Linked DNA regions of Homo sapiens. The protein of the gene in region 1 interacts with the protein of each later gene in a pairwise test. Each region holds a gene or a part of one and is shown in the gene's direction. Other genes may lie near its edges.

What was found.
Region 2: the proteins of CLNS1A (region 1) and EPB41 interact in binary tests that used the Homo sapiens proteins (3 or more experiments, as listed by UniProt).
Region 3: the proteins of CLNS1A (region 1) and FRMD7 interact in binary tests that used the Homo sapiens proteins (3 or more experiments, as listed by UniProt).

Annotation. Positions count from the first base shown.
Region 1 is NC_000011.10:77,619,824-77,630,320, reverse strand, and holds part of CLNS1A (methylosome subunit pICln), read left to right. Parts: intron 1-421; coding exon 422-558; intron 559-4,502; coding exon 4,503-4,604; intron 4,605-5,250; coding exon 5,251-5,358; intron 5,359-7,647; coding exon 7,648-7,821; intron 7,822-10,497. UniProt on the Homo sapiens protein: Involved in both the assembly of spliceosomal snRNPs and the methylation of Sm proteins.
Region 2 is NC_000001.11:28,986,476-28,996,972, forward strand, and holds part of EPB41 (protein 4.1), read left to right. Parts: intron 1-955; 5' UTR 956-962; coding exon 963-1,430; intron 1,431-2,880; exon of another isoform or gene 2,881-2,960; intron 2,961-6,854; coding exon 6,855-7,067; intron 7,068-10,497. UniProt on the Homo sapiens protein: Protein 4.1 is a major structural element of the erythrocyte membrane skeleton. It plays a key role in regulating membrane physical properties of mechanical stability and deformability by stabilizing spectrin-actin interaction. Recruits DLG1 to membranes.
Region 3 is NC_000023.11:132,123,462-132,134,738, reverse strand, and holds the start of FRMD7 (FERM domain-containing protein 7), read left to right. Parts: upstream 1-6,718; 5' UTR 6,719-6,894; coding exon 6,895-6,951; intron 6,952-11,277. UniProt on the Homo sapiens protein: Plays a role in neurite development, may be through the activation of the GTPase RAC1. Plays a role in the control of eye movement and gaze stability.

The DNA of each region.
Region 1 (10,497 bases):
ATTACCACAGAGTTAAGTGCTAAAATTTGCAAATCAGAAAAGGAAGAGATCTTTATGGACTGGTGTAGTTGAAGGGAGGCCTCATGGAAGAGGGGAGGATTTGCAAAAGCAAAGAGGGTATTTGAAGACATACCAAAAAAGAGTAAGCATGAAAGTCATAGAAACATACATGTGACTGAGGAAAATGGAATTTCAAGTCTGTTTGAATTTATAGCTAGAGGGAAAGAGACCGTAACAGAATTGATCTTAAAGAAAACTCAGTTTCCACTACTGAATTTTCTTATTTTATGAACGTTTCTAAAAAAGTAAACTTGAATTTATTTATATGCATAAAGGTGTCCAAGCTGAACTTTTATATACTTTGTGGTCTTACATGAGGATTTACTTTCTAAAAATAATCTACTTAAAACATGTTTTTCAGCCGCCTGTCTTGGTTAGATGGCTCTGGATTAGGATTCTCACTGGAATACCCCACCATTAGTTTACATGCATTATCCAGGGACCGAAGTGACTGTCTAGGAGAGCATTTGTATGTTATGGTGAATGCCAAATTTGAAGGTATGTATGGTGTAATTTAATCTAATGCCTCCTTTGATAGCAAATTATATTTTAAAAAAGAGTCTTTGAGGCCGGGCACGGTGGCTCACGCCTGTAATCCCAGCACTCTGGGAGGCCGAGGCGGGCGGATCACAAGGTCAGGAGATCGAGACCATCCTGGCTAATACGGTGAAAACCCGTCTCTACTAAAAAATACAAAAAATTAGCCAGGCGTGGTGGTGGGCGCCTGTAGTCCCAGCTACTCAGGAGACTGAGGCAGGAGAATGGTGTGAACCTGGGAGGTGGAGCTTGTAGTGAGCCGAGATCATGCCACTGCACTCCAGCCTGGGCGACAAAGTGAGACTCCGTCTAAAAAAAAAAAAAGAAAAAAAAGAGTCTTTGATAATAATCAATGTAACATTGAGGCCATTGACTCATTTTGGGTAGTAGTTTATTAAGCAAAATTTCAGCACAGCAACTTGGACACTTGAAGTTTTCACAATGGATGTTCATGTGTGTCTGTATATATTTCTCTATATTTACACTTAGAATTCTTCATTTATTATGGATATGTATTTCTAGCTTTTCCTCTAAAGTTTCACTGTTTATTCTGCCTTTCTCTTTTTAAAAGGCACCCTTAGGGGCTTGGATCAGTATACCCTGTGCTTCTCATAATTTAAGATAGAACTGTTTTGTTTTGTTTCAGTAGTGGGTCTCAGTGGTTGTAGGGGGGATATATTTTCCATGGGCCTCCACCAACCTCACCATTCCCCCACATTTGGCAGTGACATTTTGGTTGAAAGAGGAAGGGTATTATTGGTGTCTAGCAGTTAGATGCCAAGGATGCTATTATTATACTAAATATTCTGCTATGCACAGATGGTCCCCCACAACAAAGAATTATTCCATCCAAATGTCAGTAGTGCCAAGGTTGAGAAACTGTAGGATATAAAGATTCTCAAGTTTTGCTTTGGGATAATTGCAAAGACTTGTAAAAGTCTAGTGAAGATGCTCATGTTTAAAATAACGGGTTGCTTTTCTTTGAAGTAGTGTGTAAGAGACAATCCTATGAAGTTACCTACAAGGCTATTGCTCTTTCAAATTTAGATTTTAATATGGTTCCAGATATAATATGATCATTTATATTCAGGTGTGAAACTATTTAGTAATTCTTAGGACTTTTGGCAAGACCTGCCTCATTAAGTGGTAATGACTGATTCAGCTATCTGAAAATATTTTTGTTATAAGATTTCAAATTCTTGCCATTGGAAAAGGTTCAAAGACATTTAAAAATCTAGTGAAGTTTGAAAAAGAGGATGAGGAAAAGTAAAAGGCTGTTAACCTTGGGGTGTAGTAGTGTAGTAAGACTTCCTAATAAGGCATTTGGCACAAAATTTACTCTCCATCTAAGTAAATGCAACTATGATTTTATAACCAAGAATATTATGTGTCATGTTTAGTTTAAAGCATTCATTCATTTGCAGAAATGCGAAACCTTGCTCTTGTCAGTCAACTCCAGATGCTGGTGTGAAATGGCCCCAAATAGTGACGGCCATTGGAGGTGGGAAAGGTACATGCCAAGAGAAAGGCTTAGGAAATAGCATTTAATAAATACTAGCCTAAGGGCAAAAGCACATTGAATAAGAAAACTCTGTCATTAGGCCGGGCACAGTGGCTCAAACCTGTAATCCCAACACTTTGGGAGGCCAAGGGGGGCAGATCACAAGGTCAAGAGATCGAGACCATCCTGGCCAACATGGTGAAACCCTGTCTCTACTAAAAATACAAAAATTAGCTGGGCGTGGTGGCGGGTGCCTGTAATCCCAGCTACTCGGGAGGCTGAGACATGAGAATCACTTGAACCCGGGAGGTGGAGGTTGCAGTGAGCTGAGATCGCGCCACTGCACTCCAGCCTGGGCAACAGAGCAAAACGGTCGAAGAAAAGAAAAAAAAGTAAGAACTCTGTCATTAACTTGCTAGGCAAGTCATTTGCATTTCTCTGAGCCTGAATTTCATCCAAAAAGTTAAGGGAGTATATTAGTCTCTTGTTCCCAAACTCAAGACTAATGGATACACATTAGAAATACATGGGAAGCTTGTTTAAAATGCAAATGCTCTGAGTCCTAAACTAGGAAAAAGCAGTTCAGTAGGTTTTAGGGTGTGTGTTTTAAATATGTGCTCTATAATCATACAGAATCTATATGATTGGTTGTAATTGATGTGATTATGATTAATCCTTTCTTAGTAAGATATGCAGGATTTCCTATCTTACTAGAAATTAGTATCTTTCTGGGTCACATTTATTTCACTAATTCTCCAGTTCCTTTTTTTTTTTTCTTTTTTTTTGAGATGGAGTCTTGCTCTGTCGCCAGGCTGGAGTGCAGTGATGCGATCTTGACTCACTGCAACCTCTGCCTCCTGGGTTCAAGCGATTCTTCTGCCTCAGCCTCCCGAGTAGCTGGGACTACAGGCTCCCGCCACCACGCCCCGCTAATTTTTTTTTTTTTGTATTTTAGTAGAGTTGGGGTTTCACTGTGTTGGCCAGGATGCTCTCCATCTCCTGACCTCATGATCCACCCACCTCAGCCTCCCAAAGGGCTGGGATTACAGGCGTTAGCCACCTCGCTTGGCCCTTTAGTTCTTTTTATCTTAAACTCCTCTCATAAATTACATGTGCTTGAATCATATTTTCCCAGCCTTTGTTCCTTGCATTCTGATTCTCTAAGCTCTAAGTTTTTTTTTTTTCTCTTTGGCATACCTCTGTAAGTCTCTTTAAAAATGACCATCAGGGCTGGGCGCGGTGGCTCACACCTGTAATCCCAGCACTTTGGGAGGCTGAGGCGGGCGGATCACGAGGTCAGGAGATCAAGACCATTCTGGCTAACACGGTGAAACCCCGTCTTTACTAAAAAAAATACAAAAAAATTAGCCAGGTGTGGTGGCGGGCGCCTGTAGTCCCAGCTACTCAGGAGGCTGAGGCAGGAGAATGGGGTGAACCCAAGAGGCAGAGCTTGCAGTGAGCCGAGATGGCACCACTGCAGTCCAGCCTGGGCGACAGAGCAAGACTCCGTCTCAAAAAAAAAAAAATGACCATCAGGACCGGGCATAGTGGCTCACATCTGTAACCCCAGCATTTTTTTTTTTTGTGATGGAGTCTCACCCTGTCACCTAGGCTGGAGTGCGATGCTGTGATCTTGGCTCACTGCAACCTCCACCTCCCAGGTTCAAATGATTCTCCTGCCTCAACCTCCTGAGTAGCTGGGATTATAGGCGCCTGCCACCACGCCTTGCTAATTTTTGTATTTTTAGTAGAGACGGGGTTTCACCATATTGGCCAGGCTGGACTCAAACTCCTGACCTCGTGATCCGCCCACCTCGGCCTCCCAAAGTGCTGGGATTACAGGCGTGAGCCACCGTGCCCAGCCACAATCCCAGCATTTTGAATGGCCAAGACAGGAGGATCACTTGAGCCCAGGAGTTTCAGACCAGCCTGGGCAACATCGTAAGACCCCATCTCAAAAAAACAAAAATTAGCAGGGTGTGGTGGCAAGTGCCTGTAGTCCCAGCTGCTTAGTAGGCTGAGGTGGGAGGATCGCTTGGGCCTGAGAGGGCAAGGGTGTCCAGTCTGGGCAACAAAACAAGTCCCAGTCTCAGAAAAAAAAGTTGACCCTTAGCTCATTGTTGATGAGATTAGATTACCTTAAAAATAACCTTAAAAATTCATTCCCGGTGAGGCGCGGAGGGAGCACTTTGGGAGGCCAAGGTGCGTGGATCTCGAGGTCAGGAGATCGAGGCAAGGCTTTTCTAGGATGCTCACTGTATAATCAGAATTTTTCAACCATAATTGGAAATAAATTTGTCAACCATAATTGGAAATTAAAATTGAATTGCAATATTCAGATTTTCAATATGCTTCATTTTTTTAAAGTCAAATAATGACATTAAAAGGGTATTTTATTTTCTAGAAGAATCAAAAGAACCTGTTGCTGATGAAGAAGAGGAAGACAGTGATGATGATGTTGAACCTATTACTGAATTTAGATTTGTGCCTAGTGATAAATCAGCGTGTGAGTGTTCTACAGTATTGATTCTTCCCCTTTTACATACCAAGCATTCCCAATTGACACACACACACATACACACACACACACACCTCTCACCTTTACCACCATTACCTCCATTCTATTGCTTTTTCTTTATTTTAGCATTGGTAATATCATTAAGGACCAAATACCTATTAATATCAAAGGTTGTGAATGTAGTGAGAATATTGTAGACACTCTGTCATCTGGGTATATTTTGTGAGTGGACTCTGGTTAGTTTTACTGATTGGTGCTGTTGACTTAATCTCACCTGCTGGATGGCAGAGGAGTTATGGCAGTTTTAAAGTGGAAGATCTCAGGATGGCTGGAAAGAGCCCTATCAGCTGAGAGCAGTCTTCACCCTTCACCCTGATGCCAGCAGTCTTACCAGGACTCTGACCCTTTTTTCTTGGAAAATCCCACGAGCCATGAAGAGATTGCAATGATCTCTCATAATGAACTCTTATTATTTTATGACTTGTCTTTTGCTTCAACCGCTTTCAAGATTGATCTTACAATTTGGCAGATTTTGTAAATACTGTGGCGTTTTGTGTACCCATTAAATTTATTTGCACTGATGGTTACTTTTATTACAAAAAAAGATTGGTTACAGTTTAATTTCCTTGTTCAGTGGAGGCAATGTTCACTGCAATGTGCGAATGCCAGGCCTTGCATCCAGATCCTGAGGATGAGGATTCAGATGACTACGATGGAGAAGAATATGATGTGGAAGCACATGGTTAGTGAAATGGATTTTAAAGTGGGTTTTTTGTTTGTTTAGTGTTTCATTTTAAGCATTTATTTGTATTAAGGGTAGAGGATTATAGTTCTTTATATGACTGTAAAGTATGCAGTATGGTAAAATTATTATTATTATTTTTGAGATGGAGTTTTCGCTTTTGTTGCCCAGGCTGGAGTGCAATGGCGTGGTCTCGGCTCACTGCAACCTCTGCCTCCTAGGTTCAAGCGATTCTCCTGCCTCAGCCTTCCAAGTAGCTGGGATTACAGGCATGCGCCACCACGCCAGGCTAATTTTGTATTTTTAGTAGAGATGGGGTTTCTCCATGTTGGTCAGGCTGGTCTTGAACTCCCGACCTCAGGTGATCCGCCTGCCTCGGCCTCCCAAAGTGCTGGGATTACAGGTGTGAGCCACTGTGCCTGGCTGGTAAGATTATTATTAAAATAGAATGACACGGTAGAACACTTTATGCCAAAGCCCTTTGCAACAGACAAATTTTTGAGTGTAAGAAATAGAGATTGTTATGGGGAAGAATGGGTAAGTAGAGCATATGGGAGGAAAGAAAATGGTAGATAGGGAAGTGGATGGTCAGGAAAGTCTTTTAAGCTGAGGCAGCTGCCCCCAGAGAACAAGCTTCTCTCTCTACACCTTGAGAACCTGGATCATTTATATTGTTTTATTATTACTATTATTATTTTGCAACAGGGTCTCACTCTGATGCCCAGGCTGGTGTGCAGTGGTGTGATTTCTGCTCACTGCAACCTCTGCCTGCTGGACTCAAATGATTCTCCCAGCTCAGCCTCTTGAGTACCTGGGACTACAGGCTTGCGCCACCATGCCTGGCTAATTTTTGTGTATTTTTTATAAAGACTGGGCTTTGCCATATTGCCCAAGCTGGTCTCCAACTCCTGGGCCCAAGCAATCCTCTGGCCTTGGCCTCCCAGAATGCTGGGTTACAGGCATGAGCCACCGGGCCTGGCCTGCATCTTTATTTAACATGTTCCTTCAAACAGCTCACTGCCAAGGTCATTTCTTTTTCTCAGAACCATACTTCATTTATTTAAGAGCCCTTTCCGATTGCCTCCCCCAGACCAGAATGCAGTCACTAGCGTGATAAGAGTCTTTATAGCTTGAAGTACCTGCTGTTCTCTTTTCTTTTCCCTACTGGTCTTATGTACACCAATCTGGGTATCCAAAGCCCTTTCCTTCATATGTACCCACTTCCTGGCCTGAGATAAACACATTTCTGGGATCCGCCATCACATACCTAAATATATCCAAATATATCCTTATCTTTCTGAGATTTTTGAGTGATTTAAAATTTTTCATCCTTTTTGTATGTTCCAGAATTTCTAATTTTTTTTTTTTTTTTAAACAGGGTCTAACTCTGTTGCCCAGGCTGGAATACAGTGGTACCATTCTCCACCCACTGCAGCCTTGAACTACTGGACCAAAGCTGTCCCACCCCAGTCTCCCGATTAGCTGAGACTACAGGTGCACACCACGTGCCCGGCTAATTAAAAAAAACATTTTTTTGGAGAGATGAAGTCTTACTATGTTGTCCAGGCTGATCTTGAACTCCTGGGCTCAAGCAGTCCTCCCAGCTCGGCCTCTCAAAGTGCTGGGATTACAAACGTCAGCCACTGCACCTGGCCCTGATTTTTTTTAAGAAAGGAGCATGTTTTTTAATCAGAAAACATCTTCATTTTACAAATTAATACCAAATTAATTTGTGCTCACTTGTAAAATTCCCACCTCAGGATAATGTAGGACTCTCTGACCTTAGGAACACACTTTTTTTTTCTAGTCCCTGGACTTGGGATTCTTTGGGAATTGCTGTTTACTGGCTTGTTATCTCTTTTAATAACCCTAGAGAGTAGGTACATCTTCTTTGTATTTCTGTCTTCAGCAGTAGCCTATATGTGTGTATAAATAAATGTTCAAAAGTATCTTCCTGGAAGCCTATTTGGACAGTATATTATCTTCAGCAGATTCTTTTTTTTTTTTTTTTTTCCAAGACAAGGTCTTGCTCGGTTGCCCAGGCTGGAGTACAATGGCGTGATCTCGGTTCACTGCAACCTCCACCTCTGTGGTTCAAGCGATTCTCCTGCCTCAGCCTCCTGAGTAGCTGGGACAACAGGCGCGTGCCACCACGCCTGGCTAATTTTTGTATTTTTAGTAGAGATAGGGTTTCACCATGTTGGCCAGGCTGGCGGCAGATATATTATTGATTCCATTTTGTTTTTTCTAATTGTTGTATTTAAACTTTAAAGTTTTCTGTTTGTTTAGAACAAGGACAGGGGGACATCCCTACATTTTACACCTATGAAGAAGGATTATCCCATCTAACAGCAGAAGGCCAAGCCACACTGGAGAGATTAGAAGGAATGCTTTCTCAGTCTGTGAGCAGCCAGTATAATATGGCTGGGGTCAGGACAGAAGATTCAATAAGAGATTATGAAGGTGAGTGTCCTTTTGCAGTGTGAACAGTCAGATGAGCACTTGGGCAATAAGTTATGGATAGTCAATAGAAGTTCTTTTAATAACTAAGAGAAAGAATTGACTCTCTATAGTATAGGAAGCAGATACAGAATTACATAGTATAGGAATGCTTATGTCATTTGTTTTTAGTGATTTTTTTTCCTCATTACCAAAAAAGTCTTTGTTCATAGTCAAAAAAATTTTTTTAATGTGCGCAAGAAAGTAGAAGTGAAAAAGAAACAAGTGTAATTCTAACTGAGAGATATCCACTATTAATTTACTGTTGCATCTGTGTATTAGTTTGCTAGGGCTATTATAACAAAGTGTCATACAGGCTGGGTGGCTCAAACAATAGAATTTTATTGTCTCATAGTTTTGGAGGCTAGAAGTCCACGATAGGTTATCTCTGAGGGCTGTCAATTCAGGCATCTCTTCAGGTATACACACACCCACCAAAGCAAGAGAGAGATTTTAAGAAATTGGCCCACGTGACTGAAGGCTGGCAAGTCCAAAATCTGCATGGTAAGCCGGCAGACTGGAGACCCAGAGAAGAGTTTATGTTGCATTCTGCTGCCTCAGAAGTTCTGCTGGCAGAATTTCTTCTTGCTCAGGGGAGGTGAGTCTTTTTCCTATTGAGGCCTCCAGCTGATTAAATGAGACCCACCACACTATGCAGGGTAATCTCCTTCACCCAATTTTCACCAGTTTACAAGGCTAATCTCATCTAAAAAATAACCTCCACAGAAACATCTAGAATAATGTTTGACCAACTATCTGGACACCATTGCCTAGCCAAGTTGATGCATAAATTTAACTATCACACCCTTCTTTTTTTCTTAAGATGGAGTTTCGCTCTTGTTGCCGAGGCTGGAGTGCAATGGCACGATCTTGGCTCACTACAACCTCCGCCTCCTGGGTTCAAGCGATTCTCCTGCCTCAGCCTCCTGAATAGCTGGGGTACTGGCGCCTGCCACCGCTCCCAGCTAATTTTTGTATTTTTAGTAGAGACAAGGTTCCACCATGTTGGCTTAAAGTATGCACAGGCAAAGAAGAGGTAGAAAAAAATAAATATAATTCTGAGATGCATTTACTATTAATTTTCTGTTGCATATCCTTTCAGTCTTGTGTCCTTTTGTGTGTGTATATACACTGATTGTGTGTGTGTGTGTGTGTGTGTGTGTGTGTGTTTGAGACAGAGTCTTGCTCTGTCGTCCAGGCCGGAGTACAATAACGTGACCTCGGCTTACTGCAACCTCTGCCTCCCAGGTTCAAGTGATTCTCCCACCTCAGCCTCCTGAGTAGCAGGGATTACCCACTACTATCGTGCCCAGCTAATTTTTGTATTTTTGTAGAGACGGGGTTTCACCATGTTGGCCAGGCTGGTCTCGAACTCCTGACCTCAGGTGATCCGCCCGCCTCAGCCTCCCAAAGTATTGGGATTACAGGCGTGAGCCACTGCACCCGGCCATGATTCTGTCTTATTTATTTATTTATTTATTTAAGACGGAGTCTCACTCTGTTGCCCAGGCTGGAGTGCAGTGGCATGATCTTGGCTTACTTCAACCTCCACCTCCTGGGTTTAAGAGATTCTTCTGCCTCAGCCTCCTGAGTAGTTGGGATTACAGGCATGTGCCACCATGCCTGGCTAATTTTTGTATTTTTAGTAGAGGCGGGGTTTCACCATGTTGGCCAGGCTGGTCTCTAACTCCTGACCTCAGGTGATCTGCCTGCCTTGGCCTCCACCTTCCTGGTTCAAGCCATTCTCCTGCCTCAGCCTCCCGAGTAGCTGGGATTATAAGCGCCTGCCACCATGCCCGGGTAATTTTTTTGTATTTTTGTTAGAGATTTCGCCATGGGGTTTTGCCATGTTGGCCAGGCTGGTCTCAAACTCCTGACCTCAGGTGATCCACCCACCTTGGCCTCCCAAAGTGCTGGGATTACAGGCGTGAGCCACTGTGCCTGGCCAAGACAACTCTTTCCGTGGGGCTTGTATTAGTCTGTTTTCACACTGCTGATAAAGACATACTCAAGACTGGGCAATTAGCAAAAGAAAGAGGTTTCATTGGACTTACAGTTCCATATGGCTGGGGAAACCTCACAATCGTGGTGGAAGACGAGGAGCAAATCACATCTTACATGGAAGGCAGCAAGCAAAAAGAGCTTTTGCAGGAAAACTCCCCCTTATATAACCATCAGATCTAGTGAAACTTACTCATTATTATGAGAACAGCACGGGAAAGACCTGCCCCCATAATTCAGTTACCTCCCACCAGATCCCTCCCACAACACGTGGGAATTCAAGATGAAATTTGGGTAGGGACACAGCCAAACCATATCAGGGCTCTTGTTTTTTTTCTCTTGTTCCCTCCCCACCTTTTATTTAATGAGATGACAAAAACAGGGAAATAAGCAAAAAGCTTGCTGTACTGATTTTTGTCTTTTCACTTTGTGAGGATAGGGCTGTATACCTTAAAAAGCCTAACAGTAAATACTTAGATCTGTAAAGGGTGAACAATTGATACTGCATTTGAAAGTTCCTACATAGAGTTATTTTAGTATTGAGGGTGAGAATTTACACAGTTAGTGTCGCAGACTGATTTTGATGTGGCCTAAATCCCCAGGTAGCATTTTCTTTCTCAGTTTGTCCCTTCAGACTTT
Region 2 (10,497 bases), on another chromosome or scaffold:
TGCTCTTTCCTCCTCCCCTACGAGTGAATCAACACTTGCTTTATAAGTTTTTCTTCTCTATCTCCTTTCTCTATTGTTAGTTTCACTTCCTACTCTTAAAAATTCTGAGCTTTCAAAATCATGTTTATCAGGAGAAAAAAGAGACTGAAAGAGCTTAAAATGGGATACCTCTGGCCGGGTGCGGTAGTTCACGCCTGTAATCCCAGCTCTTAGGGAGGCAGAGGCGGGAGGATAGCTTGAGCCCAGGAGTTCGAGACCTGCCTGGGCAATATAGCAAGACCCCATTCTCCACAAAAAGGAAAAAAAAAAGGGATACCTCTGAAAGAGGTTGTAATTTGGAATTGTAACATGAAAACCTAAGGAAATTTTTTGCAGTATTTCAACTGTATATTTGTCGTTGCTGTTATCCAGTCTTACAACAAACTATCAGAATTTTACTTTTGCAATTTTAATAGAGAAGTCTCTGCATCCTAAGAAATGTAAAGAAAAAGAACAATAAAGACTGGGGGAACTTTTAAATTTCATCGTCTCTTGGTGTGTGGAGAATTTTGCAGGGAATAATTCCTGCAAATCCTACACCTTCAGATTGATACCCTCAAAGGACACTAAACCACAGTCCTTTTTTAAGGAAGGATAAAACTGTATTTACTGTATACAGTTCTAGGCATTGGATTTAATATGTGATGTATTTCACTAAGGTGGCCTCCGTGGGTACTATTTTAAGCTACTCTCTCTGTGTGCATATCTTTAGTGACTCAAGGCATTAATATTTTATTCAGGATGTGTAGATAAGATATTTTTGTAATTTAATGGAAAGTCTCATGTTTAATGGGTTTGAATTCTGTTTGTTGGCAATTAAATACCTAAGTATATTAATTTTTTAGGGTTTAGGGTTTTGCCAACAGTAATGTGTTTTGCTTATAAGAGCCCCCCTTTTCTATCTTCTTTTTAATAGCAACATCATGACAACAGAGAAGAGTTTAGTGACTGAGGCCGAAAATTCACAGCACCAACAGAAGGAAGAGGGTGAGGAAGCCATAAACTCAGGCCAACAAGAACCTCAGCAGGAGGAATCTTGTCAAACAGCAGCTGAAGGAGATAATTGGTGTGAACAGAAGCTGAAAGCTTCTAATGGAGACACTCCTACACATGAAGACTTGACCAAGAACAAGGAGCGGACATCAGAAAGCAGAGGACTTTCACGACTATTCTCCTCGTTTCTCAAAAGGCCCAAATCTCAGGTGTCCGAGGAAGAAGGCAAAGAAGTAGAGTCAGATAAAGAAAAAGGTGAAGGAGGTCAGAAAGAGATAGAATTTGGAACCAGTCTTGATGAAGAGATCATTTTAAAGGCCCCAATTGCAGCTCCTGAACCGGAACTCAAAACAGACCCATCTTTGGATCTTCATTCATTAAGCAGTGCAGAAACACAGGTAAGGATGTGTGGATATGGGAGGTGGGCAAAGGAAGGCAGGTTATACACTTTATTTTTCATTTAAGAGTATTTGGGCTGGGCGCGGTGGCTCATGCCTGTAATTCCACCACTTTGGGAGGCCGAGGCAGGCGGATCAACTGAGGTCAGGAGTTCGAGACCAGCCTGGCCAACATGGCCAAACCCTGTCTCTACTAAAAGTACAAAAATTAGCCGGGCCTGATGGCGGGTGCCTGTAATCCCAGCTACTCAGGAGGCTGAGACAGGAGAAGTTGAACTCGGGAGGCGGAGGCTGCAGTGAGCTGAGATCGTGCCACTGCATTCCAGCCTAGGCAACAAGGATGAGATTCCGTCTCAACAACGGGGGGATAAAAAAAGTACTTGGTTTTATTTCTTACTAGCTAGTTGACTTAGGCATTGATAGTGATAAGTAGCATCATAAAGCTTTATAGTTTCTACTCTATTTTTTTTTTGAGACTGAGTCTTGCTCTGTCACCCAGGCTGGAGTGCAGTGGTGTGATCTCGGCCCACTGCAACCTCCCCGTCCTGGGTTCAAGCTATTCTTCTGCCTCAGCCTCCCGAGTAGCTGGGATTACAGGCGCTGGCCACCATGCCCAGCTAATTTTTGTATTTTTAGTAGAGACAGCGTTTTGCTGTGTTGGCCAGGCTGGTCACAAACTCTTGACCTCAGGTAATCTGTCCACCTCAGCCTCCCAAAGTGCTGGGACTACAGACGTGAGCCACCATGCCCGGCTTATAGTTTCTACTCTAAAAAAATTAATGTAGTCATTGGAAACTTACTTTTTAAACAGTTACTTACACTTTATATGTATTAAAGGGTCTTGCTATTTTGCCCAGGCTAATCTCAAACTCCTGGGCTCAAGTGATCCTCCCACCTCAGCCTCCTGAGCAGCTGGCATTACAGGTGTGTACCACCATGCCTGTCCATTTACTGTTTATAAATCAAAGAATAGTAGAGAAAAAAAAAGTATCAAATCAATGTGTTCAGCCCATATATCATTTTATTATAATAATGGAACAAATTGAAGATTTCTCATGAGAGAGGAAAAGAAAGATGAGATGGTTTAGAGTTCATTTTTGTGGAATTATTAGGAACAGGACGGTTATCAGCAGATGTGGTTCTTTTACGTAAATCTTCCTAAAAGCTGTGTGATGAATTCAAGCCCTTTGAAGGTATGTGATAGATTCAAGTCATGTCTACCTTATTTTGATCATCTTCTTTAACTAGAGCATATTGCCACAGAGTGTAAGATACAGATGAGGAAGTCTAGCTCTTTCTATCACCTGTGTAATGTATATTAGTCTGGGGCCTTAATTGTGACATAGTGTTGTTAAACTAAACACGAGTTGTGAGTTTATTTGTCCCAAAAAATGGGAAAACATTAGTACTGTAACTCAGACTATTTTCTGAGAATGTCATTTATTTTCAGCCTCACCATTACAATTAAGAATTATTTTCAGAGTCTTCTTATTTCTGAAGCATGTGAATATTATCTGCATCGTTAAAAGTGTAAGTCCTTCTAGAACTCTGACAGTGTTGGGGGGAAAAAAGTAAAAGTCCTACATGTTTCTATTATAGGTCTGAGATTTGGACTCCATAGTTTTATTAGAGTCTTATTAGAATATTACATGTATTTCTAGAACTATTACTTGTATATTCAAAGTGCTGAGGGTAAAATTTAGGATAAAATTATAATTGCACACTTGCTGTTAGTGAAACAAGGTTGAAAACAAGATTTACTATGTTCTGTAATAGTTAAGATGCAAGCTATAGAATCCGACTAGAGGGTTCAAATCGAAGAAAAGTGACACTTTTCACTTTATCAGTTTCCTCCTCTGTACAATGGGGATAATAATATCCACCTCATTTGGGATTGAAAGGATTAAAAGAGTGAAACCGGTAAAAGCTCTTAAAACATTGCCTGGCATTTAATAAATACTCAATGAATGTTAGCTAGTAAATAAACACAAACAGTAAAGGCAAAGAAACCATTCATATCTTAATAACATTTTATTTTAGGAATACCAAAAGAATTAAATTACATTATCGGCCGGGCGCAGTGGCTCACACCTGTAATCCTAGCACTCTAGGAGGCTGAGGCAGGCGAATCACAAGGTCAGGAGTTTGAGACCATCCTGGCCAACATGGTGAAACCCTGTCTCTACAAAAAATACAAAAAATTAGCTGGGCGTGGTGGCGGGCACCTGTAGTCCCAGCTACTCGGAAGGCGAGGCAGGAAAATTTGCTGAGAGCCGAGATCACGCCACTGCACTCCAGCCTGGGTGACAGTGCGAGATTCCATCTCAAAAAAAAAAAAAAAAAATTACATTATCTTTCAGGAAGCCTGGTACTTTCAAGAGTTTTTCAAATTTCCTTCCTTCCTTCCTTCCTTCCTTCCTTCCTTCCTTCCCTCCCTCCCTCCCTCCCTCCCTTCCTCTCTTCCTCTGCCTCCCTCCTTTCCCCTCCCTCCCTCCTTCCCCCTCTTTATTTATTTTCTTTTTTTCTTTCTTTCTTGACAGGGTCTCTCTCTGTCACCCAGACTAGAATACAGTGGTGTGATCATGGCTCACTACAGCCTCAACCTCCCGGGCTCAAGCTATCCTCCCATCTCAGTCTCCTGAGTAGTTGGGACTACAGGTGCATGCCACATGCCCAGCTAATTTTTAAATTTTTTGGTAGAGACGGTCTTGCTTTGTTGCCTAGGCTGGTCTTGAACTCCTGAACTCGAGCAATCCTTCTGCCTCAGCCTTCCAGAATGCTGGGATTACAGGCATGACCACTGTGCCTGGCCTCAAGGGGTTTTTAACTGCTTTTTTCTCCTTCAGCTTTATATAGGGGAAAATCCATATCTTGTTTTAGTTAACATTTGAATCAGAACTTGTCTGCATTGTCTAAAGTTCATAGATTCGTACTCAAGTTGACACAGATGATGGACAGTTAATTTTAGATTTAACTAAAATCTCATTCATTAAGATTTAATTCCGAATTGAAATAAATTGTCCGTAGGTTATTTGTCTTCATGTGGAGAAAAAGAAACGATATTGTTAGTAAAATTTCAAGGAGATATTATTTAAAAGAACAAACTATTTTAGGCCTTTTGGAAACTAATATTTATAGTCAAAACCTTGTGGATCAGAGTCGTCTGGATAAAGGTTTATTTGCCTAACCATGTTTCTGTATATGTAATAGGATTTTATTTAAATGGTTCTTTTTTATCCAGAATTTTTTAAAAAGCGTGTTTGCTTTATATTATAAATATATAAATATATATTTATATTACATTTAAGTGTATAATATATATAAATATAGGATTGTACCAGTCTTCATCCAGAGTAGCTTGGATTTTTTGGAAGCCTATGTAAATTTTTAATGTTTGTTTATTCATTCAACAAATATTTATTGAAAACCTACCATGTGTGCCAGGCCCTAGGCTGGATATACCTTGGTAAATAAAAACTGCAATATGGTGAAGAGGTTTAAAATCATGGATTTTGGGGCTGAGTGTGGTGGCTCATGCCTGTAAATCCAGCACTCTGGGAGACTGAGGCAGGAGGATCACTAGAGCCCCGGAGTTCGAGACCAACCTGGGCAACATGGAGAAACACCATCTCTACAAAAAAGTAAAAAACTAGCTAGGCATGGTGGCTCTCCTGTAGTCCCAGCTACTTGGGATGTTGAGGTGGGAGGATCACTTGAGTCTGAGAGGTCGAGGCTGCATTGAGCCATGATTATGTCACTGCACTCCAGCCTGGGTGATAGAGTGAGACTCTTGTCTCAAAAAAAAAAAAAAAAAGCAAAAAAAACAAATCGTGGATTCTGAAGCCAGACTGGTATGTGACTTATTAATTGTATGATCCTAGGCAAGTTACTTAATTTCTCTGGCCTGTTTTACAACCCTGCAGGCCAGGTACTATTATCCTCCCTCTATCAAGTGGGGATATAATAATACTACGTGCCTCGCAGGGTAGTTATGAGGATTGAGTTAGTTCACATAAGTAATTTTCTTAGAATAGTGACTGGCCCATTGTAATTGTTGTATAAATGTTTGGTATTATTATTATTATAAAACAGACATGATTTCTACCCTTGTGGACTTTAATAGAGAAGACAAAAAAGTAGCAAATAAAAATAATTATTTATTGTAATAAGTTATAAAGCCACCAGAGTACTGATATGAAAGACAGTAGAGCGGGCATAGATAGATAGGATAGCCAGTGAAGAGACTTCCTGAGGTTGCAGTGAGAGGGTCATGAAAGATCGGAAGGAGTCTTTTAGATTACTTCCAGTATTTAATGCAGGAGTCAAATAATTAATTTCTTTTTCCTAATTGTCAACCATGCATTCTTTTTTTCTTTTAATTGTTTTCCAGCTGTTACACAAGGAAGTAACATATTCTTTTAAAAGAAAATAATTAGTCGGGTTTAGATAAAAATATGTCGGTAGTTTTGTTGTGTTGAAAGTAAAAGTAAAAATGTATGCCGGCCAGGCACGGTTGCTCACGCCTGTAATCCCAACACTTTGGGAGGCCGAGGCGGGCAGATCATGAGGTCAGGAGATCAAAACCATCCTGGCTAACGTGGTGAAACCCCATCTCTACTAAAAGTACAAAAAAATTAGCTGGGCGTGGTGGCGGGCGCCTGTAGTCCCAGCTATTCAGGAGGCCCAGGCAGGAGAATCGCTTGAACCCTGGAGGCGGAGCTTGGAGTAAGCCGAGATCGCGCCACTGCACTCCAGCCTGGGCTACAGAGTGAGACTCCGTCTCAAAAAAAAATGTATACCAAAAATGTTATCCTACTTATCGGTATTATTTGGGGATAATTTAAGATTGCACCAGGAAACTCTTCCTTCATTGACTCTTCTTTGCATTTAACATGATTAATATTGGGTAGAAAGGTGTTAGCTGGTAGTTAAAATTTTTAGCCTACTACATGTTTGCTTAATGATGTGAAATTGGTCCCAAGCATTTCTCTTAGAATTAAAATTAATTTAAAATTTAGAATATGTAACAAGTCACATCTTATTTTGCAGTTTGTAAGGCTACATTGCTAAAATTGAGGAGCATGGGCAGAGACAATAACGTTTTTGTTAAACTTTAATAATACCGTGTAATGGCTTGGTCAGGAAGAATATATAATGCTGAGAGCAATGGATTGGTATCCTCCGGTTTACCTGAGACCTTCATTTATTGATTTGATGGGATTCTACCTGAGAAGTTTTAATAACAAAGTCTTTAGGGCATTTGGGGGATCATACTATTTTTTATAGAAAAATATTTAATATTAATGTCACCTATATTTGTTTTAGTTCATGCTTTTATTGGTAAGATTATTATAGGTAAAAGCATATACAGCATGTTTTGTGAAATGTGTTTATTACTGACTTGGCGATGTCATGGATATGTAGCCTGCTCAGGAAGAACTCAGAGAAGATCCAGATTTTGAAATTAAGGAAGGAGAAGGACTTGAAGAGTGCTCCAAAATAGAAGTAAAAGAAGAAAGCCCTCAATCAAAAGCAGAAACAGAATTAAAAGCTTCCCAAAAACCAATCAGAAAACACAGGAACATGCACTGCAAGGTTTCTTTGTTGGATGACACAGTTTATGAATGTGTTGTGGAGGTGAGTATGTTTTCATTTCCAACAATCAGAACTCTTACAGGTGGTTTCATCTAGAGTTGCGTAAGTGGTGATTTTGCCCACGATAAGACTCACTGTAGTGATTATTTCTTTTTTCTTTTTTTTTTTTTTTTTGAGACAGAGTTTTGCTCTGTCACCCAGGCTGGAGTGCAGTGGCATGATCTTGGCTCACTGTAGCCCCCAACTCCCATGTTCAAGTGATTCTCCTGTCTCAGCCTCCCGAGTAGCTGGGATTACAGCCATGTGCCACCATGCCAGGCTAATTTTTTGTATTTTTAGTAGAGACAGATTTCACCATATTGGTCAGGCTGGTCTTGAAGTCCGGGCCTCAAGTGATCTGCCCACCTCGGCCTCCCAAATTGCTGGGATTACAGGCATGAGCCACTGCGCCCGGCCTTTAATGATTATTTCTGTAGATGGAAGTATTAATGGTGATTTTCTGGAGGTGGGATTATGGGAAGATGATGAGTAAGTCTTTAAGTCCAGTAAATGCCATTTCTTAAAATTTTCTGTTTTCTGAAAGAATAAGTGATTGAATCAGGATTGAAGAAAAATATCAGAGTTATTCAGTTACTCTTTTTGCTCCTTCAGGACAAGTTGACAATTTTTTTTTTGTTTGTTTGTTTTTTGAGACAGAGTCTCTCTCTGTCGTCCAGGCTGGAGTGCAGTGGTACAATCTCGGCTCACTGCAAGCTCTGCCTCCTGGGTTCACGCCATTCTCCTGCCTCAGCCTCCAGAGTAGCTGGGACTACAGGCACCCGCCACCACGCCTGGCTAGTTTTTTGTGTTTTAAGTAGAGACGGGGTTTCACCGTGTTAGCCAGGCTGGTCTCGATCTCCTGACCTCGTGATCTGCCCGCCTCGGCCTCCCAAAGTGCTGGGTTTACAGGCTTGAGCCACCGCGCCCGGCCAGAGCAAGTTGAAATTTTAAAAAAATCTACTAACTATATATTTTTCAAACTGGAACAGTAGTTGTTTATTATGATATGCTTGATATATAAGCAATTGCAATTGTTACTAGTAACAGCTTTTATTGACAAAGTGTGTAATTCACATATATGTGGAACAAACTATTTTATTTATTTATTTATTTATTTATTTATTTATTTATTTATTTGAGACAGGGTCTTGCTCTGTTGCCCAGGTTGAAGTGCAGTGGCGCAGTGACAGCTCACTGCAGCCTCAACCTCCTGGGCTCAGGTGATCCTCCCACCTCAGCCTCCTGAGTAGCTGGGACTACAGGCACATACCATCACACCTGGCTAATTTTTTATATTTTTTGTAGAGACAGGTTCTCACCATGTTGCCCAGGTTACTCTTGAGCTCCCCGGCTCAAGCGATCTGCCTGCCTCAGCCTCCCAAAGTACTAAGATTATAGGCATGAGTCACCGCACCCAGCCTTATTTCTTAATCACATTATTTATTTGCAAATGTAAATATGTTCAATCACAAATCATCTAAAATATTATGCTATATTTACTAATAGGTATTCTCTAAGTTTAAAAAGGAAATCAAGAAAGATGTAATTGTACTTTGAAACAGGTACTATACACCTAACTAGAGCCTTAGGGTCTGCTTTTTCTGCTTCTTGCACTAACTAATTTAGAGATGGGGAAAGCTATTTTACACCTATTCTTCCCATTCAGACCAAGATCCAGATATGGATCTCTTATATATGAAGCCCTTGGGGACAGATGTGTCATAGAATTCAGAATATTTTGAGGCCGGGCACGGTGGCTCATGCCTGTAATCCCAGCACTTTGGGAGGCCGAGGCAGGTGGATCACGAGGTCAAGAAATCGAGACCATACTGACCAACATGGTGAAACCCCGTCTCTACTAAAAATACAAAAATTAGCTGGGTGTGGTGGCACGCACCTGTAGTCCCAGCTGCTTGGGAGGCTGAGGCAGGAGAATCGCTTGAACCCAGGAGGTAGAGGTTGCAGTGAGCTGAGATCACACCACTGCACTCCAGCCTGGCGACAGAGTGAGACTCCGTCTCAAAACAAAACAAAATAAAAACTAGAATTCAGAATATTTTGGAGTTTAGCAAGGGAATAAGTACATATTCTGCATATTTTATAATAAACCCAGCAGTGTCTGTAGCAGCACCCACATGATCAGACATAGTATTTCTATGGTAAAAGATATGAAGATTCATTCTGAGGTGGATAAATTAAGATTATAAATAGTCTCTTTACAGTTCAAGTCAAAATTTGCCATTTGGATTTTAGAATTATGAATAAGGGATTAGGGAAAATACATGAAGCATTTTCAAATCATCTTCTGTCATTTAGAATGAAAACATGGGAGAAAAAAAGAAAATTATTTGATATGGATGAGTTAAGACTGACAATGAATGAACATTTATGTGAATTATTAATAGTCATTAAAAATAACTCATCTCATTGAGAGGAGGACATGTCATATATGTTTGCCCAAAAAATGATTCTAATTTTTTGAAGTATTTTCATATATATTTCTCAGAAGACATTCACATATTTGATTATTGTTAAACAATTCCAATAAAGAGGTAGGATGAGTGTAAATATTCTTATCATTTCACAGCTGAGCAAACTAATGTTCAGAAAAGTTAATTGAATCTACTCAGCTTGTTTAGCTAGTAAATGGAGGAGCCAGGACTTTCTGACTAAATCTCAGTCTTTAAGTTAGGGTATTTTCTTCCTATAAATAGGAGTAAAAGAACCCAAATTTGGGAATGGTTTGACTTTCTAGGTTAAGAAACATTAAGAAAATTATTCCTAGCACCACTGAAGGAGCCACTTCAACAGGTAGTGTCTGTTGGCTATCTAGAATTTTACTTTATTCATTTTTCTGAAAGAGATTGTAGGGAGTTGAGGCATACCTCATTTTCTTTGGGACATTTGGTCTGAAAATGATAGAGTCTAATGATTTCCACAGCCACAATTAAATGTCACTCTGGACAGTTGATTCAGTAATTTAAGTAGTCACGGTAACTGACAGTTGCTCATAGCATGCTACAGGATATATTGCACCAAAAATGAAGAATGTGATGTGTAGGATGGAGATGGGGAATATGAGATGGAAGGAAGGTAGAATTTTGCTTTGAATTGTAACACAATTTCTAAACTAGTATATGTGTATTACATATGTAAACTGACAAATTGAAGAACAGGAATTTTATAAATCATATTTTCTGCTTAAACTATGTAGCCACCTGAAAGTTTGTTGATCACCAAAGATGAAAGAAGAAATCGGAAAGTGACATTTTATTTTATTTCATGATGGGTGTAGAAATAAGAAGAAACCTCAGGCCAGGTGCAGTGGCTCATACCTGTAATCCCAGCACGTTGGAAGGCTGAGGCGGGGGAATCACTTGAGGCGGGGGAATCACTTGAGCCCGGGAGTTCAAAACCAGCCCGGGCAACATAA
Region 3 (11,277 bases), on another chromosome or scaffold:
TATGTGTGAATTTGATCCTGTCATTATGATGTTAGCTGGTGATTTTGCTCGTTAGTTGATGCAGTTTCTTCCTAGTCTAGATGGTCTTTACATTTTGGCATGATTTTGCAGCGGCTGGTACTGGTTGTTCCAGTACCAGGAGCTTTTTTAGGGCAGGCCTGGTGGTGACAAAATCTCTCAGCATTTGCTTGTCTGTAAAGTGTTTTATTTCTCCTTCACTTATGAAGCTTAGTTTGGCTGGATATGAAATTCTGGGTTGAAAACTCTTTTCTTTAAGTATGTTGAATATTGGCCCCCACTCTCTTCTGGCTTGCAGAGTTTCTGCCGACAGATCTGCTGTTAGTCTGATGGGCTTCCCTTTGAGGGTAACCCGACCTTTCTCTCTGGCTGCCTTTAACCTTTTTTCCTTCATTTCAACTTTGGTGAATCTGACAATTATGTGTCTTGGTGTTGCTCTTCTCAAGGAGTATCTTTGTGGTGTTCTCTGTATTTCCTGAATCTGAATGTTGTCCTGCCTTGCTAAATTGGGGAAGTTCTCCTGGATAATATCCTGCAGAGTGTTTTCCATTCTCCCCGTCGCTTTCAGCTACACCAATCAGGCGTAGATTTGGTCTTTTCACATAGTCCCATATTTCTTGGAGGCTTTGCTCGTTTCTTTTTATTCTTTTTTCTCTAAACTTCCCTTCTCGCTTCATTTCATTCATTTCATCTTTCATCGCTGATACCCTTTCTTCCAGTTCATTGCATCGGCTCCTGAGGCTTCTGCATTCTTCACGTAGTTCTCGAGCCTTGGTTTTCAGCTCCATCAGCTCCTTTAAGCACTTCTCTGTATTGGTTATTCTAGTTATACATTCTTCTAAATTTTTTTCAAAGTTTTCAACTTCTTTGCCTTTGGTTTGAATGTCCTCCTGTAGCTTGGAGTAATGTGATCATCTGAAGCCTTCTTCTCTCAGCTCGTCAAAGTCATTCTCCATCCAGCTTTGTTCCGTTGCTAGTGAGGAACTGTGTTCCTTTGGAGGAGGAGAGGCGCTCTGCTTTTTAGAGTTTCCAGTTTTTCTGCTCTGTTTTTTCTCCATCTTTGTGGTTTTATCTACTTTTGGTCTTTGATGATGGTGATGTACAGATGGGTTTTTGGTGTGGATGTCCTTTCTGTTTGTTAGTTTTCCTTCTAACAGACAGGACCCTCAGCTGCAGGTCTGTTGGAGTACCCTGCTGTGTGAGGTGTCAGTGTGCCCCTGGTGGGGGGTGCCTCCCAGTTAGGCTGCTCGGGGGTCAAGGACCCACTTGAGGAGGCAGTCTGCCCGATCTCAGATCTGCAGCTGTGTGCTGGGAGAACCACTGCTCTCTTCAAAGCTGTCATACAGGGACATTTAAGTCTGCAGAGGTTACTGCTGTCTTTTTGTTTGTCTGTGCCCTGCCCCCAGAGGTGGAGCCTACAGAGGCAGGCAGGCCTCCTTGAGCTGTGGTGGGCTCCACCCAGTTGGAGCTTCCCGGCTGCTTTGTTTACCTAATCAAGCCTGGGCAATGGCGGGCGCCCCTCCCCCAGCCTCGCTGCCGCCTTGCAGTTTGATCTCAGACTGCTGTGCTAGCAATCAGCGAGACTCCGTGGGCGTAGGACCCTCTGAGCCAGGTGCAGGATATAATCTCCTGGTGTGCAGTTTTTTAAGCCAGTCAGAAAAGCGCAGTATTCGGGTGGGAGTGACCTGATTTTCCAGGTGCCGTCTGTCACCACTTTCTTTGACTAGGAAAGGGAACTCCCTGATCCCTTGTGCTTCCCGAGTGAGGCAATGCCTCGCCCTGCTTCGGCTCGCACACGGTGCACACACCCACTGACCTGCGCCCACTGTCTGGCACTCCCTAGTGAGATGAACCCGGTACCTCAGATGGAAATGCAGAAATCATCCGTCTTCTGCGTCGCTCATGCTGGGCTATACAAAATCTTTTAAATAAGAAAAATAAAATGGAATGTCGAAGTAAATGAACACATCTTTCACAATAAAAGAAATCCACACAAAAAAGAAATTAATATAAATGTAATGGCACTGGGGCCAGGCACGGTGGCTCACACCTGTAATCCCAGAACTTTGAGAGGCTGAGGCGGGCAGATCACGTGAGGTCAGGAGTTCCAGACCAGCCTGGCCAAAATGGTGGAACCCCCATCTCTGCTAAAAATACAAAAAAAAAAAAAAAAAAAAAAAACTAGTGGAGTGCGGTGGCACATGGCTGTATTCCCAGCTACTTGGGAGGCTGAGGCAGGAGAGTCACTTGAACCCGGGAGGTGGAGGCTGCAGGGAACCAAGATCGCACCACTGCACTCCAGCCTGGGAGACAGAGCGAGACTCCATCTCAAAAAAAAAAAAAAGTAATGGCCCTTAAACATATGAAAAGATGCTTGACTTCTCTCATAATATGAAAAGTACACCAAGATTTTTTTTCTCACCTATCAGTTTGGTAAACATTCAAAAGTTCGATACTCCACTGTCAAGCCTGTATAGAAAACAGTCACTCTCATATATTACTAATGGGACTGCAATGTAGCACAACCTTTATTAGTTTGGTAGGGCTGCCATATGAAATATCACAGACCGGGTGGCTTAAACAACAGAAAGTTATTTTCTCACCATTCTGCAGGCTAGAAGTCTGAGATCAAGGTGTTGGCAGGACTGGTTTCTTCTGACACCTCTCTCCATGGCTCATAGATGTACATCTTCTCCTCTATGTGTCTTCATGTTGTCTTCCCTCTCTACATGTCTGTGTCCTACTCTCTTTTAATAAGGACACCAGTCAAACTGGATTACGACCCACCCTAATGACCTCATTTCAACTTAATTACTTCTTTAGAGACCCTCTCTCCTAATGCAGTCACATTCTGAGTTACTAGGGCTCAGGACTTCAATGTATGAATTTTATGGGTCACAATTCAACCCATACTAACCCTTATGGAAGGAAATATAGCTATCATGACTACCAATTCATTATCCTTGACCAGCAACTCTACTTCTGGAAATCTATCCTACAGATATATCTGCACACATATAAATTGACATATGTATGAAGATATTCATTTCAGTCTTGTTGAGGCTGAAATATTAATTTCAGACTGGCTGAGTGAACTTTGGTTTGTCTACACAGTGCAAAATTATGCAGCTGTGAAAAGAAATGAGGAAGTTCTCCATGCACAGGTAAGGGCAGATCTCCATGATAAATGAGGAAAAAGAATGCACAAAACAGTGTAATACTAGTATGCTACCTACATAGGATATATATATATATTTGTATTTGCTTGTATAAAATTTGCATAAGGAAACACTGAAGGCTGAACAACTACAACAAAACGCTAATAAAAGTGGTTATTGAGTGGGACCAGCCATGCAAATCTCTAGAAGATGACGGTGTTCTTTAAAACACTTCAAAATCATTGGAAGAAAACTACAGCTGGGCTCTTCCTGCTGACCTGGGGAGGCCAGTGGCTCTATGGAAAACACTGTGATAACCTACTAAGGAGAGCAGCCTGTGAAGAAGCTCAGGTGTTTGGCAATCAACTCATTCCTCCCAATGCACAAGTGAAGAAGGAAACTGTTTTTCTCAATCCTGCAGCTTGCAAAGGCAAAGCCAGGATTCTATTTGAAAAAAATGCTGCCCCGATTTTACATTTATCCCAGCATAGGTGTGACTAGTGTTAAGACAGATTATGAGGGACAAGCCAAGAAATTCCTGGAACTGATAGAAAACACATATGTGATCATTGTTACAGGAGGAGATGGGACACTGCAGGAGGTTGTTACTGGAGTTCTTCGATGAACAGATGAGGCTACCTTCAGTAAGATTCCCATTGGATTTATCCCACTGGGACAGACCAGTAGTTTGAATCATAACCTCTTTACTGAAAGTGGAAACAGAGTCCAACATATTACTGATGCTACACTTGCCATTGTGAACAGAGAGACAGTTCCATTTGACGTCTTGCAGATCAAGGGTGAAAAGGAACAGCCTGTGTTTGCAATGACTGGCCTTTGGTGGGGATCCCTCAGAGATGCTGGCATCAAAGTTAGCAGGTACTGATATCTTGGGTCTCTAAAAATCAAAGCAGCCCACTTTTTCAGCACTCTTAAGGAGTGGCCTCAGACTCATGAAACTTCTATCTTGTATACAGGACCTACAGAGAGACCTGCCAATGAACCAGAGGAGACCCCTGTACGAAGGCCTTCTTTGTACAGGAGAATATTACGGAGGCTTGCATCTTACTGGGCACAACCACAGGATGCCCTTTCCCAAGAGGTGAGCCGAGAGGTCTGGAAAGATGTGCAGTTGTCCACCATTGAACTGTCCATCACAACACGGAACAATCAGCTTGACCGAACATGCAAAGATTTTATGAACATCTGCATTGAAGCCGACACCGTCAGCAAAGGAGGCTTTATAACTATAGGAAGCCTAAAGGTGAGAAAAGCCAAGCTGGACACTGAGGGCATGGAGTGTCTCCAAGCCAGCCAGTACACTTTGCTTGTCCCCAAGGGAGCAGGGAGCTCTTTTAGCATTGACAGTGAGGAGTATGAAGCGATGCCTGTGGAAGTGAAACTGCTCCCCAGGAAGCTGCAGTTCTTCTGTGATCCTAGGAAGAAAGAACAGATGCTGGCAAGCTCCACCCAGTGAGCAGGCAGACGACAAGTACTCCGAGACCACATTTTAGGCCACCGGTGGGACCAAAAGGGAACAGGTGCCTCAACCATCCCAACAGTGTTCTCAGAGGCTCTCAAGGGCATTTTCATGGCAACTACCCCTCTGCCAGCCTCCAGCAGTGCTTCCCAAAGTGTTCTCTGTCACCTGCTTTGCAATCAGCTTCTGTTAGGGCATGTTTTGTTTTGGTGTGACGGTCGACCCTCCTAAACACGGGCTTTCCTCAGGCTGGTTCAAGATGGGAAAGGACTTTCTTCTGTTTTCTCCCAAAGTGCAACCACAGTGGAAAGCCCACAGTGGGCTTAGCCTGCCTAAGCCCTTCCATTCCCATTCTATTCTTTGATTGTACTAGGAATTCCAGGAAAAGTGCCTTCCTTCCCTGGTGACCTTTTCCTATTTCTAGCCTCCTCCACGGGTGCTGCTATTTTGAGAGCTCCGGCTCTTGTTTAGCTTTTATTTCAATTCTATCCTCAGTCCAGGTATGTATGTGAGGTTGTTTCCCTCTTCAGCCATGGCTATAATACTGTAAAATGCTAGTTTTTATTTTTTAAGTAGTGCTTCTTAAATGGTTTGCATGAGAGCCACTTGGAGTGCATGTTGAAAATTGATCTATTTGGGGTCCACCCCAAACCTAACAACCCAATTTGGGGATGGGGTTCAGGTATCGGCATTTTTAAAAAGTCAGCCACCCTTCCCAGGTGATTCTGTAAGTTGGTCCCTCAACCGTACTTAGAGAAATAGTGTTTTAAAGCAGTGGTCCACAAAGTATTCTGCTCATGTGACCCCCAAAAGTATTTTGAAAAATCATGTGTCCCCTCACCCATCTAAGTTGACATCTAAAATTTTTCATGGGAAGTTAAATACTTGACAAAGTATGTGTTTGCTGGTGTCATATAAATATTGGTATTTTAAAATAAAAACTGTTACATCACTATTTTAAACATATCCGGTACAATTTAAATATCACAACAATTTGACACCCTTTATTCATTTATAAAAATAAACGAGCTAGTTCTTTAGTAGTTGAACATTTTAAATTGGCTTTTCTTCTTCTATATTTTCATACCACTTTCAGCCAAGAATCCTATCGTAATGTAATCTACTGTGCTTGGCATCTTTTAATCATTCACCCATTATCTTCTTGTCAACAAAAAATACAAATGGAGGTAAGTTTTCTTAGTTCTTGCCTTAAGTGTTATCTCAGTCCAGAATAAATGTCATCGTAATTATTGTTATATAATGAAAATGATATTAATGTAATTCTTTGATGACTGTTTTATTAGAACGTTCTTTATCCTAATTAGTTCATTTATCCAAGAATACATGAATGTTATTTACAGCTGAGATGGGGTTCGACCTTAGTTGTATTCCTTGTTTCATTTCTTTATAGATGTAAGCACATAAATTCTATGGGAATAGAAAGAAAAAAAATTGGTTACCAATAGGGGTGTATTGGGAACACAGAAAAGAGGGAACAGGAGTGGAAGTGAAGTTTTCTATATACCTTTTTATATAGTTTTTATTTCTAAATCATGTGAATTCAGATAATTAAAATTATGCATAATTTTATATTATATATGTTTCTATATAATAGCAATTATATGGATATATTATATCTATATAATTATATATGGATATATTATATCTATATAATTATATATGGATATATTATATCTATATAATTATATATAGATATATATAAGCATAGATAGATAGATAGATAGATAGATAGATAGATAGATAGATAGATAGATGCTTCCTAGCTTGGCCATGAAATTTCTAGTACAATTTGAGATTAACTTGAATCTTTTTACTTTTGAGAATGGCTATTCTCAGTTTATTAAAGCTTGATCTAGGGTTTTCAAATTGTGCCCTTGTGAAATAAAGAAAATCCCCAGGGACCACAAATGCTTGCTTTCTTTATATTTTTCTTTGAAGAAAGGAGCTGAGTTTAAGAAGGCTAGAGGAAGTCCAGTTAGATTTGATATTGACCAAACAGGAGACTGCCCAGATGCTATTGATCCCCTGCACTTGGCAGCACAAATGCCCTTGGGTGTGCATTACTTCAAGCAAACGGAAGTGTGCCCCGCTGACAGTGGGAATGCCTGGCTGGGGGTGGGGGGGCCCGAGTGCACCACATCCAGCTGGGAGTGAAATTCCTGGAGAAAGCACCCACAGCACTCTGAGCCTGCTTGCAGCCCAACGGCCTCGCTGAGAATGCTACATTTAAAAGTGCAGTTTTTGGATGATTCCCAGAAGATTTTTGTGGTTGATGTAAGTGGAAATCACATTGCTATTATTCCTTTATTATTCATTCAATAATTGTCATTTGTGAACAGCCCATTAGAGAGCAATGTTATGTCTTCTTTAGGACTGAATGAAGGAGGACTGTGATTTTTAGCTTTGGAAAAATAATCTGTATTTAACATCACAATGTAGTTCATATTTTTCCATTAACCTTTCTCTTAGAACAAGTTGTCTTTTCTCAAGGGACAACAATAGCAAATTTTAAAGACAGGATAACTATTTGCAAAAAGTAAAGCAGCAATAAACTAGTTCTTTTACCCAATAAGGTATTGTTGTTCATTGAAATTATGTCTGTGGGTCTCACCCCATGAGCATTTGTGGGGAGAAAACTGTTGTTCTGAGGGAAAGGAGTGGGGGAAGCTATCCTCCTTTTCTGAAGAAAACCTATGGGTTATAAGGGGTAGAATTATGTAGTTGTAATGAGAACTTCAGGAAGGAATGACAAGTATGAGAGAGAAAAATAGGATAAGAGACTATTTAGTTTGATTTAGTACTTATAGTTCAGAGTTCTTAATAAATTCCTAGCTACAAGATGATTGCATACAATTATACCTCATCTCTTCAAGAAAGAACAAATGTATTAAGCACATCATTTGGTGCTCATGTTCCAACATCTTAAGATATGTACATTTTGATGTCAGGATTTATGTATGAGCATTTTGAAAAGTTCTACATTTTTATTGGAACCAAAAATGCTATTTGCTCTGATATTTACATTAGCCACTAACAAGAGACAAATAGTTTATTTTCTCTGAAATTCATACAAAATGTTGGTTTTTTTCTTTTATACATAAACTGACAACTGCTGTGGCTCAGCCATGATGTTGTGTGTGTGGGTAGCCCATTTTTCCAATGAGTATTTTATTTTTATTTGAATCATGTGCTTTGTGAGTGATGACTTCATGTCTTCATCTGCTGTTTTGCTGTCTCTTCCTTTCAGTTTTATGCGCAAAAGGCATTTCTAGTTCCACGGACCTGAATGATTTGTTTTTGTAGCAAATAGCTTCCATTAGAGGTATGAGGCATTTCCTATTCTTTCTTGGAACTATATTTAAGGGGTGGAAAATATCTTTTGAGTAGTTTATCCATTTGCAGACTGGTGGTGTATGCTCACAGTGCTGCAGTACCTGAATTAGTGAGCTGGGTATTCAAAAGATATTGCTTTAGGCTAAGTTTTTAATAGATATTTCAAGGAACTCAAAGAGAAATCTTTGACAAAAAGTGACAGAAGAGTTTGTTGAATGTGCAGTCTAATTCAGATCCATTTAAATGGGGTGGAGGGTGGGTAAGGAACACAGTACCATATCTTCACAAAATTCACCTACGGAAGAGCCACTTCCAGCAACTAGAAGACTTGATTTGGCTTCAAGTCAAACTGTCTCTTTCCAGCTGCAACACATTGTGTTCCTTGGAAAGATAATGGGAGAGATTTGATACCCAGCAATTCAGGTGTCAAAGCATGTGATCCCTTTTGCTCTGTGGAAGAATGCTTTGTAAGTAGCAACCATGGTGTTACCCAGAGAGGCAATAGCATTGGCTGCAGTACTGTGAGTGGCTTTGTCCAGAGGAGTTAGAAGCTTAAGTTAGCATTCAATCATCCAATAGTACCTTCTCTGCTTAACAATAATAGATTGATGATGATGATGATGATGATGATAGTGATGATGATGATAATGGTGGTGATGATGATGATAGCAGTAGTGAGTCATCTGTGGATAGCACTTTAAAATTTACAAAGCACTTTCACATCCATTAGTTCATTTGATCTTCCATTCAGCCTTGTGAGTGAAGGTAGGGAAAAGATCTTTTCCCATTTTGTAAGTTAAAAGATGGAGGCTCAGGGAACTTAAGTGACGTGTGCACAATCACACAGCATATAATTGCAGAGCTGGACTTCCAATCCAGAACTCTCCCCTCTCCTTCATATACAATTGTAAACAGTAGACTCATCTGTCAGTAGCCTTCAGTATTGCCGATGCACATTATTTATTTTCTGATGACCTCACAAGGCATAGAACTTGGCACACAGTGAGCTTTTGATGACTATTGTGAACCAGTTAGTAGACCCTTCTTTTCTTAATCATGGTTGAAGAATTATGTGGGACAGTGTTCCCTCAAGGTCAGGGAGACAATGGTGTGAATCTTTTCACCTATTCAAACACTTAAAAAAGCAACCTAAAGAATGCTCTATTTTATTAGTACTAACATTCCAAATTTGATGAAGAAATGCTTGGAACCATAATGAAGAGAACCCATTGATAGCTGAGGAAGGCCACATGGAGGACCTTTTGATACTAAACTGAAATCTCAAGAGGCATGGATCATAACCAGGGAAAATTGTCCTTCAAGATAAGATTCAAGAAAATAATTGGTTGCATAAGGGAACATAGTGGACTCTTGGGTATTGGTGTTGATTTTATAGAAAGTGCAGTGGTAGAAATATAAAAAGGACACATGATCAGATAAAATAATGTCACCTGGAGAAAGCTCATTGACATCCAGAACCCTTTCTCCACCCCCAGTACTATTATCTTCCTGAATTTGCCAGTGTCCAAGGTCTAACTCAGGCCTCCTGACTAAGAAGCCTGTTTTGTCACTACTCCACAAGAACTGGAGTCAGAGACTGACATTTAAAATTAGAATGCTAGTGTCACCATTTACAGTGGGATTGGGGACACTGGGGTCCTCTCATCATTTATATGCCAAATGATGTCAGAAGAGCCAGATCTGGAAGAATTAGATATATGATCCTAATATTCGATGGCTTGGTAATGCATCTGTGTCCACAGAGGCCATGGCATTGAGACCTTTTAGTCACGTATTCATTAATTAACTCATTTAGTTAACAAATTATTATTGAGGACCTAATATGTCCCAGGCCCAGTTCTGGGAACAGTAGACTCTGCTATATTGGTAGGTAAAGTTCGTGAGCAAGAGCACACTCTGGCCTGGACATACTGCCTGGATGCTACCAATTTTGGCCTTGGTTATTCCTTTTTCTGTCATTGCATGATTGACAACTCCGCTTTCTGATCATCCTACTGTTTTTAACTTGTTAATACTTTCAGTTAGTTTATTAGAAAGAGTGGCTGCTCCCAAATACATCTTGTTTTCCTGAGGTTTCTTTGCATATTTGTGCTCTGAGTCACTTGGTGTTGATTTTATAGATAAATTCTCTGAAAATATTAGTCAACCTTTTCTTTCATGAACTTCCAATAGTGTTTAGGGGTGCAGGATAGGTTATGGGACTTCACAATTGCTAGAATGTGCCTACTAAAGTACAATCCAATGAAGAAAATGAATTTAGTGAAAATGTCATCTTACTTTTCAAGCCCTCATATTTATTTCATAAACTGATCATTGTCAAATATTAGCATTATTCTTAGGGCTGATCTTACAACGGACAGCTTATCTTTAGACTGTCAAGGAAGGCTCTCTAGAATGATGATGGGAGTGGGTGAGTGAGACTAAAAATTGAATAAGGTCATGATTTACAAATTAATTGCAGGTTTTATTGTATATTTGGTTTTGCTTCTTCAACATGGAGACTAGAACTTTTCTTGAAGGAAAAAAGGAAGATAAGACCAAAGTTAAAGCTTTGTGAGATATTAGAAACAATAGAGGGTCAAGTTTCTAGCTTGACTATCAATCTCTTCAATATACACACATGCACATGCATGTGTGCACACACTCTCACACACAGTAGTAGTGATGAGTGCCTTTGGAGAGCAACCTCTTGTTTGCTCATCTCAGGTTACATAGAGAGTTGTACAAAATGGTCATCCCATCACCGTATTTGACACAGTTCTATCTGATATCCCTTTTTGCCTGCTGCATTTCTGTCTTTGTAAAAGCTGTTATTTCTGAATTTCCAAAATGATGTTTCACTTTGATGGTTTCTGGAGACTAAAGTCAAAACGAGATGTTAAAACATCTCTACTTTCACATTTACCTGATTGCTAAGTGATTGTACTGGCCATGCAGTGGGTACCCAGTAACAGAATATAGTAAGTTAGCTCACCTGATTCCCTTGGGAGCCCATGATAAAGGCCACTAGGCCTCATTTTTGGAAAGAGACAGAGAGGCAGTGCCAGGACCGAACACTGTTCAAGTTAAGTAGGAAAGCAAAGCACAGTGATTTTTAAATTTATTAGTGGTGGAATTTACCCTTGGGATGTTTGCCCAGGGGTTGGTTTTTAAATTTGCGATGATGAAGGATCTTTTGTAGTTTAGTCAACAGTGAAATAGATAACTGATTCTGTCACTTCATAAGGCAAAGTTCTTCCAACTTCA